Homo sapiens: one gene and its partners. The protein of the gene in region 1 interacts with the protein of each later gene in a biochemical or structural test. Each region holds a gene or a part of one and is shown in the gene's direction. Other genes may lie near its edges.

The links. Proteins that work in one complex are often made in the same cells at the same time.
Region 2: the proteins of UBE2D2 (region 1) and AMFR form a complex in vitro, tested with the Homo sapiens proteins (3 studies listed by BioGRID).
Region 3: the proteins of UBE2D2 (region 1) and RNF38 form a complex in vitro, tested with the Homo sapiens proteins (3 studies listed by BioGRID).
Region 4: the proteins of UBE2D2 (region 1) and SIAH1 form a complex in vitro, tested with the Homo sapiens proteins (3 studies listed by BioGRID).

Annotation. Positions count from the first base shown.
Region 1 is NC_000005.10:139,616,839-139,620,338, forward strand, and holds part of UBE2D2 (ubiquitin-conjugating enzyme E2 D2), read left to right. Parts: intron 1-3,500.
Region 2 is NC_000016.10:56,408,546-56,412,045, reverse strand, and holds part of AMFR (E3 ubiquitin-protein ligase AMFR), read left to right. Parts: intron 1-2,457; coding exon 2,458-2,622; intron 2,623-3,500. UniProt on the Homo sapiens protein: E3 ubiquitin-protein ligase that mediates the polyubiquitination of lysine and cysteine residues on target proteins, such as CD3D, CYP3A4, CFTR, INSIG1, SOAT2/ACAT2 and APOB for proteasomal degradation.
Region 3 is NC_000009.12:36,369,270-36,372,769, reverse strand, and holds part of RNF38 (E3 ubiquitin-protein ligase RNF38), read left to right. Parts: intron 1-2,837; coding exon 2,838-3,051; intron 3,052-3,500. UniProt on the Homo sapiens protein: Acts as an E3 ubiquitin-protein ligase able to ubiquitinate p53/TP53 which promotes its relocalization to discrete foci associated with PML nuclear bodies. Exhibits preference for UBE2D2 as a E2 enzyme.
Region 4 is NC_000016.10:48,375,414-48,378,913, reverse strand, and holds part of SIAH1 (E3 ubiquitin-protein ligase SIAH1), read left to right. Parts: intron 1-3,500. UniProt on the Homo sapiens protein: E3 ubiquitin-protein ligase that mediates ubiquitination and subsequent proteasomal degradation of target proteins.

The DNA of each region.
Region 1 (3,500 bases):
CTTACAGTAGAGGAAAAAATAGATCGGTTCCAGCACATGCATTTAAAAGAGTATTGACCCTGGCCAGGCATAGTGGTTCATGCCTGTAATCCCAGAACTTTATGAGGCTGAGATGGGCAGATGACTTGAGACCAGGAGTTCGAGACCAGCTTGGCCAACATGGCAAAACCCCATCTTTACTAAAAATACAAAAAATTAGCCAGGTGTGATGGTGCGTGCCTGTAGTCCCAACTACTCAGGAGGCTGAGGCGGGAGAATCACTTGAACCCGGGAGACGGAGGTTGCAGTGAGTCAAGATGGTACCATTGCACTCTAGCCTGGGTGACAGAGGGAGACTTTGTCTCCAAAAAAAAAAAAGTATTGATCTTTACAAATATTGTGAAAATAGGAAAATACTGTGCTTGAGAAAAGCAGAAAAAAGAAAAAAGGCATATACACTGTAACAAGAGTTACATATAAAAGTATGTTGAGTGTCCAGAAATAGACAAGCAATGTTAGTTTTGGTATTTGTGTGGTGAAATGTGGTGTGTGATTTTTTTTTTTTTTTTTTTTTTTGAGAGGGAGTTTCGCTCTTGTTGCCCAGGCTGGAGTGCAATGGTGTGATCTTGACTGACTGCAACCTCCGCCTCCCGGGTTCAAGCAATTCTCCTGCCTCAGCCTCCCAAGTAGCTGGGATTACAGGCACCCACCACCACGCCTGGCTAATTTTTGTATTTTTAGTAGAAATTATCTGCTTATAATTTACCATTTGAACCATTAAGTAGAAATTATCTGCTTATAATTTACCATTTGTTTAATGCATGTATTTAGACAGGAAGCAACATAGTTTCATGGTAAAGAACATAGATTCTAGATCCAATTGCCTGTGTTCAGATCTCAGATCCACCTCTTATTAAATGAGGCTAGAGACACATTGGCCCCTGTATTCCTCAGTTTTTTCATCTGTAGAAAAGGAACAATAATACATATTTCATTGTTGTTACGAAGATTAAAGAAGCAAAAACAGACAGTTAACTGGTTCCTTGTAAGTACTCCAAAAACTGGGGATAAAGGCACAGTTGTCAAAAGTGTTGGGTATTTGTCATGTTATCACTTGGATGTCAAGACTCAATCTTAAAAAAAAATTATTATTATTATTATTTGTTTTTTTTTGAGAAGGAGTTTCACTTTTGTTGCCCAGGCTGGAGTGCAGTGGCGCAATCTCGGCTCACCACAACCTCCACCTCCCGGGTTCAAGCCATTCTCCTGCCTCAGCCTTCTGAGCAGCTGGGATTATAGGGCATGTACCACCACGCCCAGATAATTTTGTATTTTTAGTAGAGACGGAGTTTCTCCATGTTGGTCAGGCTGGTCTCGAACTCCCAACCTCAGGTGATCCGCCCGCCTCAGCCTCCCAAAGTGCTGGGATTACAGGTGTGAGCCACTGCTCCTGGCCACAAATTAATTTTTTAAAGCAAACAAAACTCTGAGACATTAATTTAAAATTTTTGGAGTCCCAGGCAGAAATAAAAACAGGATGCCAGAGAACCACATTTTTTTAAAGTTATTACAACTTTAATGAAATAGTTTTTTAGAGAAGTGTCCCCTTTTCTTTTGGTAGGCCCCCTTACAATTCAAGAGCTACTTGAGAAAGTGTTTGTGGACCTGTGCCTGGCCTGGTGAGGGTCCCATTGGTTGCACTTCCTTCACCAAATAGCAATAGAGATGTAAATCTAGTAATGGGACCAAGATAAGTAGAATTGTGTGAGAGGTGTGTGTTTGGTGGGGTGAGGTGTTGGAGACACAAGATAGCTGAAATTATTGCCATACCTCTTTTTGTTCTTCCCCTTGCCTAGCGTTGATTTTTTTTCAGCTATTCCAAATGATAAGGACTGTTACAAGTCTGATTTGTTAGGTTCTCTCTATCTGGATAGCTATCCTTTAAAATAGTTGCAGTGCCATTTTGTTGAATTTGATTGTATTAACTGTCTCAGATTTAAGGTTTTAATGAGTCCCTTTTTGTAAATTGAATGTATGGGCAAGTAGTTCTATGAAATGCCTTAATCCTGTATATGATATTATTCCTTTAACATATAGTCTGTCTTCAAGGACAGAAATTTTGACCCAGTATTCACTCTACTTTGAAGGTCCGTGATGGGGACCTAAATATTTAAAAAACAAAAACAAAAACACTGAAAAAAACTGAAGGGAAGCAGATAAGTGTGCCATAAAGCCATTTGATTATATGTTTTTAGAAGTGAAAGTAACTGTTGCTGTAACACTAGTGAAAAAGTAATACTGGCCAGGCGCAGTGGCTCATGACTGTAATCCACTTTGAGAGGCCAAGGAAGGTGGATCACTTGAGGTCAGGAGTTTAAGAACAGCCTGGCCAACATAGTGAAACCTGATTTCTACCAATAATACAAAAATTAGCAGGGCAGGGTGGTGTGTGTCTATAGTCCCAACTACTCGGGAGGCTGAGGCACAAGAATCACTTGAACCTGGGAGGGAGAGGTTGCAGTGAGCCAACATCACACCACTGTGCTCCAGCCTGGGCAACAGAGCAAGAGTCTGTCTCAAAAAAAAAAAAAAAGTAATACTGATGAAGAATATATATAGGTAAAAGTTCAGTGAAGAGACTATACAGGTTATAGAAATAAGAGTTACTATCTTTACAGAAGAAGGTATAGTATATGTATCAGTCCATTCTTGCACTGCTATAAAGAAATACCTGAGACTGGATAATTTATAAAGAAAAGGGTTTTGCCAGGTGCGGTGGCTCACTCTTGTAATCCCAGCACTTTGGGAGGCCGAGATGCGCAGATCACTGAGGTCGGGAGTTTGAGACCAGCCTGACCAACATGGAGAAACCCCATCTCTACCAAAAATACAAAAATTAGCCTGGCTTGGTGGTGCATGCCTGTAATCCCAGCTACTTGGGAGGCTGAGGCGGGAGAATCGCTTGAACCCGGGAGGCGGAGGTTGCAGGAAGCTGGGATCGCGCCATTGCACTCCAGCCTGGGCAACAAGAGTGAAACTCCGTCTCAAAAAAAAAGGAGGTTTAATTGGCTCACAGTTCTGTGGGCTATACAGAAAGCATGGCAGCATCTGCTTCTGCGGAGTCCTCGGGAGCTTTTACTCATGGCAGAAGGCAAAGGGGGAGCCACCTGTCTCACATGGCAGTAGCAGGACCAAGAGAGAGATGGGGGAGGTGCCACACACTGTTAAACAGCCAGATCTCATGAGAACTCTATCACAAGAACAGCACCAAAGGGGTCGTGCTAAACCATTCATGAAGGATACACCCCCATAATCCAGTCGCCTCCCACCAGGCCCCACCTCCAACGTTGGGGATTACAGTTGAACATGAGATTTGTGTGGGGACACAGATCCAAACCATATCAGTATATTAGAAACCAAAATGAATTCTTCATGAAATCAAGAAGCTAAGTAGTGTACTAAAAATCTTTTCACAAGGTCCAGATAGCCAGTACTCTCCTTTCCTGGAAAGAAAGAAAAGC
Region 2 (3,500 bases), on another chromosome or scaffold:
TTTCACATATATTATGTATAATTCCCCCAACAATTCTATGAGGTATATGCTGTTATTATAAGACCTATTGTATGGATGAGGAAACTAAAGCACAGGGATGTTAAGTGACTTTCCCAAGGTCACACAGAAACTAAATGGCAGAGCCAAGTGGCAGTGTCATTCAAAACCAGGGCACAAAATGTCCTAAGTTCACCTTGTACTTTCCCTGCACCAGGTCTGGAAACAGACATTTCACCAACGATTCCTAGTTCACGTTATTGGGCAATGATATTTAGAAGCCAAGCTGTATACTGGCTGAGTGTGCTCATTACCACTAGGGTGTCTCTGCCCTTTTGATGGATAGAATTAGGGCATACTCTATGATTTTTTTCCACTTTATTTTGTTCTCTACAAAAGATATCTGGTCAGAGTACAGTGTGTTTAAGTTCTCAAAATCTTTAAGGAGTCACGTTGTTAATTTGTAGTATATTTTGCTTTTTTGTGTTTATTTTTTGAATTTGTGAAACATTTACATGGTTCCAAATTACATATAAAAGCATTCTTTTGGGAGACCAAGGTGGGATCACTTGAGCCCAGGAGTTTGCGACCAGCCTTAGCAACAGAGGGAGGCCCCATCTCTGCAAAATATAAATATAAAAAACATTAGCCGGGCATGATGTCATGTGCCTGTAATCCCAGCTACTCAGAAGGCTGAGGTGGGAGGATCGCTTGAGCGCAGGAGTTTGGGGCTGCAGTGAGCTACTACTGGGCCACTGCACTCCAGCCAGGATGACAGAGTGAGACTCTGTCTCTTTAAAAAAAAAAAAAAAAGTATACTTAGAATCATGCTTCCATTCTTATCCTCTTCAGTCAGTTCTCCCTGACCCCCCTAGACGGCTTGATAGTCTATTTTAACATGTGGGGGAACTAGACCCTCCTTATTGCTCTCCTATTTCAGGGTTAGTGAAGATTGTTAAAACTGGAAGCCCTCTGTGTAAAAGAGTACAGTGAAGCAAATATGCATACACACTGCCCATGGGAATGTACACTTACAGGACTGCTTTGGAAGTTAGGTAGATTTTACTATAAACCATAAAAATCTTTGCAATTTTTGATTTGACAGTGCTGAAGTAACTCATACAAAGATACATACAAAAATATTCATCACAATTTTTTTTTTTTTTTGAGACAGAGTCTTGCTCTGTTGCCCAGGCTGGAGTGCAGTGGCATGATCATGGCTCCCTGCAACCTCGACCTCCCAGGTTCAAGCAATTCTAATGCCTCAGCCTCCCAAGTAGCTGGGATTACAGGCTTGTGCCACCATGCTCAGCTAATTTTTGTATTTTTAGTAGAGACAGGATTTTGCCATGTTACCCAGGCTGGTCTCGAACTCCTGGGCTCAAGTGATCCGCCTGCCCTGGCCACCCAAAATGCTGGGATTTCGTGCATGAGCCACCACGCCCGGCCCTCATTATAATGTTTTTTTTGCGTGGTGAAAATTTTAAAACAGTTTCAGTGTCCATCTTTAGCCATTGAAACGGTATATTGGTATATTCAGAGAATATTCATTGACATTGTTAAGGTTCTAACAATACAATAGGTGAAAGAAAGCATTGTACAAAAAGTAATGTGTTTTGTACATAGGGAAAAGACAAGAAAATTCATAAAAATGTTAAGGCAGCATTTTTCATTTTCTTTGTACTTTTTATGCCGCCTTTATTATGGGCTGGCAAGTGGTTGTGTTGTGTTATTTTTTAATTTGAAGAATTTTTTTTACAAAGTCTAATCTTTTCTATTGTGTAAGAATCTGGAAGGTAGAAGTAGTAAAAATGATAGCCCTTGCCATTCTTTTTCATTGTGCATTAAAAATGTAAGCATTTTTTTCTTTTTTTTGAGAGAAGGTCTTGCTCTGTCACCCAGGCTGGAGTGCAGTGGCATGATGATGGCTCACTGTAGCCTTGACCTCCTGGGCTCAAGCAATCCTCCCACCTTAGCCTCCTGAGTAGGTGGGACTACAGGTGTGCACCACCATTCCCAGCTAATTTTTGTATTTTTTTTTTTGGTAGAGATGGGGTTTCCCCATGTTACCGAGGCTCATCTCAAACTCTTGAGCTCAAGCTGTCTACCCACCTCAGCCTCCAAAAGTGCTGGGGTTACAGATATGAGCCACTGCGCCTGGCCTATTTCTTAATATATAAGTTACTAAACTAATATCGCTATCCTTTGAATAGCTAACATTCCATAATTGATTTAGGGTTATAGTCCAAAGTTTACAGATTAGTTTCTGGGTGTCTTACCTCCATTCTTCAGATGGCTGCTTTTTTTTTTTTTTTTTTTTTTTCTGTTTTCTTGAGGACAAGTATTAGAAAGCCAAGTGCAGAATATATCTTCCATAGAAGCCGGCTTTTGTTATGGTAACTTCCCTCAAATGGGGTAGGTGTGATGGTACTCACCTTCATAAACATTTTTCTTTTTTAGCATCTCAAAGACAAATTTTGGAATTTTATTTTCTACAAGTTCATTTTCATCTTTGGTGTGCTGAATGTCCAGACAGTGGAAGAGGTGGTCATGTGGTGCCTCTGGTTTGCCGGACTTGTCTTTCTGCACCTGATGGTTCAGCTCTGCAAGGATCGATTTGAATATGTGAGTTTTTAGCCAAGCTTTTTGCTTGCTTAGTCACCACGTTTGCCAACTTTGAATTGTGTAATGTGAATGAGCCACAGCAGGCATGGTCAGGGTAGCTCTTCTGGGAAGACTTCTAGATCAGGCCCCCATTGCCTGTTTCTTGAAGAACTTTCTACAGCAGCCAAGAGATGCAGAATCGTTGTCTCCTGGGGAGCTTTCTTCCCAACCCCATAGTGTTTACTTACTGCTAACATGGGGTCACTTCACCTATGCAGACTGTTTTGTTCACAGTGCAAGGAAACCTTGATACATAAACAATAAAATCTGGTCTTTTCTAGATATTTTCTGTTCTAGTCTCCTTCTGTCTCTCCCAGCTTACTCTGGTTCGTGGAGCTCTTCTTTCTGAGTAGTTTATACTATTTCCACCCCGGGCCAGGACTGAATTAGCTCCCTCAGCTTCCTTGTTTGCGAAGTGAATCATTTTATGTCTGGTACAAGATCTGTCACTTGGTTTCAGATCATAGCTGTATGAGTGAACCTTCAACCCATTAGTGACCTGAAGTAGTCTCATGAGTCCCAGATAAATGTGCATCTACAGTGCTGCCCCTCAGTTAAACCCGCTCCAGGGCCTTGTTTTTCCCTGTCTTTACCCAGTCCACATGGACCTTGCACCTTGGTTTGAGTTAATCTCACTCTCACAGCCTTTATTTCTTTCACATTCAACCCTCATTTGAAGTCACAAACAGGAGCTTCTAACCTCCCAAACTGTTTTTTTTAATCTCCGCCTGTGACCTCAGGAGTTGCAGCTCTAGGCCTTCTTTTCAGACTGTTGCCTCTCCTTGCATAATGCTGACATCACGTTGTAGTAGTGGTAAACCTGTGCCTGGATTGCATTT
Region 3 (3,500 bases), on another chromosome or scaffold:
CAGATGATGATAATAGTAATTAGCTTTGAGTTCTTTGAAAAGCATCATGGTCCTCGTTCATAGCAAGACAAAAGAGTAGTAGAGAGTATTTACCACCCTGAAAACTGGCTCTCCTAGTGTTTTTTTCAGCAGTGTGTCTTACTCTGTATTCTGTTCTTGTTTACTACTTAATATAGGTTACCTATAAGCATATTGCCAGATTTTCTCCCAGAAACAGGCTGTGCCAAGCAGATGCAGTTTTTAACAATAATCTAGCAGGATTTCAGTTACAGAGGTGAGCACAAAGCTAGGTATTTGAAAAAAACGAATGAAGTGAAAGAGGGATACTATTAATAAATGCAATAAAACAAAGAACTGTGAATAAACAGGGCCATTAAACTCAATTAACAATAAACTTCAAGAAACAATAGAACAAGCAAGATCGAATTTTAGAGTACATGTGAGATGTAAGAGGGAGAGGGATGAGGGATATTGTACTCATGAAAATCAACTAGAAATGTTAGCTGGTAAAACTTAATAAATAGAAAAAGTGAGTTCATTCAGCTGGGCGCGGTGGCTCACGCCTGTAATCCCAGCACTTTGGGAGGCTGAGGTGGGCGGATCACAAGGTCGGGAGTTCAAGACCAGCCTGGCCAATATGGTGAAACCCTGTTTCTACTAAAAATACAAAAATCAGCCAGGCAAGGTGGCAGACGCCTGTAGTCCCAGCTACTCGGGAGGCTGAGGCAGGAGAATCGCTTGAACCCAGGAGGCAGAGGTTGTAGTGAGCCGAGATCGGGCCACTGCACTCCAGCCTGGCAGACAGGGCGAGACTCTGTCTCAAAAAAAAAAAAAAGAAAAGAAAAAGTGAGTTCATTCTGGAAGATCAAGTGGAGGAAATTTCCCAGAATGTAGTGTAACGGGGCAAAATAAAAAATGTGGAAAAGTAAATTTAAGTATGAACACAGAGTCATAAGTTCTAAATGTCTAATATTTCCAGAAGAAGGCAATACGAGAAAAATTTAAAAGAAATAATGTAGGCCAGGTGCAGTGGCTCCCACCTATAATCCCAGTACTCTGGGAGGCTGAGGCAGGCAGATCACCTGAGGTCAGGAGTTCGAGACCAGCTTGGCCAACATGGTGAAACTCTGTTTTTACTAAAAATACAAAAAAAAAATTAACTGGGCTTGGTGGTGGACATCTGTAATCCCAGCTACTTGGGAGGTTGAGGCAGGAGAATCGTTTGAACCTGGGAGGCAGAGGTCGCAGTGAGCCGAGAGATCGTGCCATTGCACTCCAGCCTGGGTGACAAGAGTGAAACACCGTCTCAAAAAAAAAAAAAAAAAAGCTTTTAGTCCTAAGGTGGAGGGCGTCTTGAATTCAATATAATACAGTAAGTAGAGTTTGAAGCAAAAATGCAAAAAGGATTGTATTAAAAATAAAGTTAGAAGAAACAATTAATGGAGCAAGAAGCTGGAGGGACAATATCAAGAGCACCTTTGCGAGTTGATCTCATAAAGGAATGTCCCTTGTTCTCTTAAGATTGGAGAATTAGGAGTAAGAAGAAACAGATTTAGAGGAACAGAGTGGGAAGATTAAGGAAAAAGTGACCATAAAGAAAGTTGCTAAAATGACACTTGGAGTTCTTCCTAGAAGGGAGATGTTTGACCTCCTTTGCCCAATGTAGAGTACAGTTTTAATGAGGCAGAGTACTTTTTCAAGTTGCTTTTGTGCTGAGCCATTGTAAAAAGCAGTTTCAGAGAAGAACAAAATGAAAGTTTAGTCACAATAAAATTTTTATTAAACTATGTCGATGACTAGTACATGGAGAGTAAATGTGGGTTGCTTCAATAAGCAAATTCTCTCCCTCTCTTTTTTTTTTAAGACATGGTCTCACTCTGTCGCCCAGGCTGGAGTGCAGTGGCGTGATCTCAGCTCACTACAGCCTCGGCCTTCCAGGCTTTAGGTGATTCTCCCACTTCAGCCTCCCAGGTAGCTGGGACTATAGGTGCACACCACCACGCCCGGCTAATTTTTTGTATTTTGGGGTAGAAACAGGGTTTCACCATGTTTCCCAGTCTGGTCTCGAACTCCTGGGCTCAAGGGATCCACCTGCCTCAGCTTCCCAAAGTGCTAGGATTACAGGCATGAGCCACTGCACCTGGCCCAACAAGCAAATTCTAATTTAAAATTCTATGTAAGTATATATACCTTGTGTGCACCCATAAAAATTAAAAGTTAAAAATTTTATATATTCTTGGAATATTTATGTTGATACTATCATATTCTCAATCATATTCATCGCGTGTTTACCCAGTTTCTATTTGCGGTTGTCAGCAAATTATATGTTCTTTGGTTATTTCATGTTTTCTCATTTTTTAAAAGTGTCATTTTGGCCACATAGGAACTATGTCTTATGTATGTGTTAGCTAAATAGACAAAAAGGTGCCTATTAGGTATATGAGGAACACTGACAAGGTATCTACAGATTAAAGTTCGTTTTATTATAATATTTAAAAAGGGAGAAAATGGTAGGTTAAATTATATGAAATTGTTGCTATTAGACTATTTTTCACTTATAAAAAGGGCAATTTCATATGATTCAAGAAAAAATTGTAGCTGTTGATTTCTAAATACTTTCAGAGATGAATACCAATACTGTTTGCTTTCATTATTGTATAAAACATATACCTTGTATTTAAATTTGTAAGTTTTTAGAGCTGATGGGGAATTTTAGCAGTTATTTAATAATGAAGCTTACCTTAGCATATACTATTGATAGATATCAAAGAAAGACAATACAGAATCCTGATGGATCACAATAAGCATAATGACTTTCTTTTTGATATTTATCACAGTCCTCCTGTCAGGCGCCAGAGAGGAAGAAGGGATCGTCTGTCTCGACATAATTCCATTAGTCAAGATGAAAACTATCACCATCTCCCTTACGCACAGCAGCAAGCAATAGAGGAGCCTCGAGCCTTCCACCCTCCGAATGTATCTCCCCGTCTGCTACATCCTGCTGCTCATCCACCCCAGCAGAATGCAGTCATGGTTGACATACATGATCAGGTACAATAACAGAATGTCTTGGAAATACAGAAGCTGAAATTTTGTGGCAGTTTGAGATTTTTTTTTTTTGGCTTTTTGTTGCAAATTTCTTTTAGTTTTTACCTAAAATGAAGTTATTTAAGTTCCTCATTCCTTTTAAGAATTGAGATTTAAATTCTACACAGCTTCCATAGAAGAAAGTTGAACTTAAAAAATTAGTATCGGCCCAGCACGGTGGCTCATGCCTGTAATCCCAGCACTTTGGGAGGCTGAGGCAGGCACATCACTTGAGCTTAGGCATTCGAGACAAGCCTAACACAGTGAAACCCCGTCTCTACTAAAAGTACGAAAATTAGCTGGATGTGGTGGTACATGTTTATGATCCCAGTTGATGCAGAAGAATCACTTGAACTCAGGAGGTGGAGGTTGCAGTGAGTCAAGATCGCACCACTGCACTGGGTGGCAGAACG
Region 4 (3,500 bases), on another chromosome or scaffold:
GGAAGGGAGACCTGGTGTCCAAGGATAAGGAGCTCGCCCTTTGAAGGGGGAAGGAGTACATCTTAGATGGAAGATGCAGCCAGATAAAGGCCCCATGAAGTAGGGATGAATTTGGACTGCTCTAGGACCTGAGGAGTGTTGCTGGAGCAAATGGGTAGTAGAGAGAGACAGGTTGAAGAACTGTGCAGAGGGAAAGAGAGGAGAGATGCTGTGAAGTGTTAGCTGATATTAGCATCTGGCTGTTGTTCAAGGAGATTCTAGGAGAATACCTAGAGCAATATTAGGACTTTTATTTTCTAAATGTAAACTATTTTGTTGACATTTAGCCTAAATACATATGGAAAAAGTGCTCAAATCATGTGTACAGCTTGACATTTTCACAAAAGGAACGCTATTGTAACCACCTCCCAGATCGAAGAAACAAGGAGCCGCCCCCTTCACAGGAAACCACCTCTTGACTTTTTACACCATAGATTTATTTTGCCTAATTTTGTGCCTTATATGAATGGAACAGTAGAGTTTGTACTCTTTCATTCTTTTGTTGTTGTTGTTGTTGTTTTGTGACAAAGTTTCACTCTTGTTGCCCAGGCTGGAGTGCAATGGCACAGTCTTGGCTCACGGCAACCTCCACCTCCCGGGTTCAAGCGATTCTCCTGCCTCAGCCTCTCGAGTAGCTGGGATTACAGGCATGCACCACCACACTTGGCTAATTTTTTGTGTTTTTAGTAGAGATGGGGTTTCTCCATGTTGGTCAGGCTGGTCTTGAACTCCCAACCTCAGGTGATCTGCCTGCCTTGGCCTCCCAAAGTGCTAGGATTACAGGCGTGAGCCACTGCGCCCGGCCTGTACTCTTTCATTTCTGTTTGGCTTCTTTCACTCAACATTATGTTTTTTTGTGTGATTAAGGAGTATTATTTGCTTATCCATGACAAAGTTACCAGCTGAATAGCCATGTGTCCCAGTACTTCTTATTTTATTTTATTATAATTTTTATTTTTATTAGAGACGAGATCTCACTATGTTGTCCAGGCTGGTCTCAAACTCAAAGGCTTTAGCAATCCTGCCGCCTCGGCCTCCCAGATTGTTGGGATTACAGGTGTGAGCTGCCACACCTGGCCCTTCTTTTGTTTTTTAAGTCTTATTCTTTTCCCTGACCATCTCAAATACTTTCTGACCAGTATTTCTAGAACGATTTTTTTTTTCCTTAAATCTTCAGGAGGCTCAGCGTGGCGGCTCACGCCTGTAATCCCAGCACTTTGGGGAGGCCGAGGCTGGTGGATCACTTGAGGTCAGGAGTTCAAGACTAGCCTGGCCAACATGGTGAAGCCCTGTCCTTGTCTCTACTAAAAATAAAAAAATTAGCTGGGCATGGTGTCATCCCCCTGTAATTCCAGCTACTCGGAGGCTGAGGCAGGAGAATCACTTAACCCGGGAGGTGTAGGTTGCAGTGAGCCGAGATGGTGCCACTGCACCCAGCCTGGGCAACAGAACAAGACTCTGTCTCAAAAAAAAAAAAAAAAAAAGTCTTCCAGAACTTTAGGTTTAATGTTACAGACAAGATATGACCAGAATAAAGCTGGCAGAAACCTTCCATTAGGTTTGTGGTTGCCCAGTCATGTTTGAACTGACTTGTTTTTTTTGTTTTGTTTTGTTTTTGGTTTTTTTTGCTTATTCGTTTTTGTTTTGAACAGGGAGTCCGGGCACATGGAATAAACTAGAAAGAGAAAAACCTTTGGAGAACTAATTATATTTATAAAACAGATCTTGCCAGTGAGAAATATTTTCTTAAGGAGTTTAATGCCAGTCTTGAATTTTGTAGAAAATATTTCAGCGTACTTGGTATAGTTATTTATTAGTGTCACATCGACCACCTTGGTCTAGTGATGGTTGATACAGTAAATATAAGTGTATACTAGCTTCTCTGCAAAGACTCTACCTTGGAAAGATTACTTCAATAATTTATTTGACAAAATGAAGTAATCCTCTCCCTGTTAAAAACTTCTTCCTGGTTTCCTTCCTTTGTATTTCACATTAAATTTTGCCCTTTTGAATTTGGCCAGAACTCAGGCTTGTTGGGTAAGGTAGCTTTACTTCTAAAAACTTGTCAAGGGCCCTGATTTAGCTTTATTAGAACAACTTCGGATATCTTGTCTATACAGACGTTAGTTAATTTTTGCAGACTGTATTCTTTTGAGTTTGTGAGGGGAGGGGGGCTATCATAAATTTTGTTAACTTTTAAAATGTTTAAGATATTTTCAGCCGGGTGTAGTGCCGGGCGCCAGTAATCCCAGCTACTTGGGAGGCTGAGACGGGAGAATTGCTTGAACCTGGGAGGTGGAGGTTGCAGTGAGCTGAGATTGCACCACTGCACTCCAGCCTGGGCGACAGAGCGAGACTCTGTCTCAAGAAAAAATAAATAAGATTTTTTTTTATAGTATAAAATAAAATGTCTACAAAATATGTAGTTTTTTGTGAATAGGCTGGTTTTAAGTTTCCTGTAAGTATCCATCTATTTGAGGAATTTTGAGAAAAAAAGTGAAAGCAAGGAGAAAATCAGCTCTTGAATTCTGTATTTGATGTTCTGTAGAAGTTACTAGCAATTCATTAACAGAAAATGTGGAGATATGATAAAATGTGCATTAAAATTTTTAAGTGTAATATTTTTTGTTGCCAATAATTTTATGAAACATTGGAGAGATACCGAAATCCCTCCTCACCCCCAAACTATTATTTATAATCTGATTACTAAAAAGTAACCATCATAGACATTTTGGTGTAGTCTGGGTGTGCTTCACATTTTTTTGTTTTACTCAGCCAAAGATATTTTAAAGTTAGTTTCTTTGATCTGACCTAAATTCTTGTAGTTCTCATGATTATCATCTCTAAGAACTATATATGTTTGAACTGTGTACTGTAATTTCAAACGATGGAATTTGTGCCGACAGTCTCTGTTTCTTGGAGTTCTTGATGCTTTGTGTGCCTGTAGTTCAGTGGTCCCATCTCTCTCTGGTTTCTAATTCCAGGCTTGCTCTCCCTTTGTCTGATCCTGCATCTTAAACCATTAAACTACATTCTGCAGTTTGGATGTCCTTCCAGTTTCTTTTCTGTTTCATTACATGCTACATACATGCATACATACATGAAAATATATACATCAATGTGCATATCTATTATACTTACCTATTTTTTTCTTTTAACCTAAATGAAATTGTAATCTGTATATTCTGTAGCTTTTTTTCTCCCCCCAATTTGTTTTTTGTTTTTTGTTTTTTTTTGAGACGGAGTCTCGCTCTGTCGCCCGGGCTGGAGTGCAGTTGGCCTGATCTCATCTCACTATACCCTCTAACTCCTGCGTTCAAGCAATTCTCTTGCCTCAGCCTCCCTAGTAGCTGGGATTACAGGTGCCCACCACCATGCCTGGATAATTTTTGTATTTTTAGTAGAAACAGTTTCACCATGTTGGCCAGGCTGGTCTCCAACTCCTGACCTCAAGTGATCCA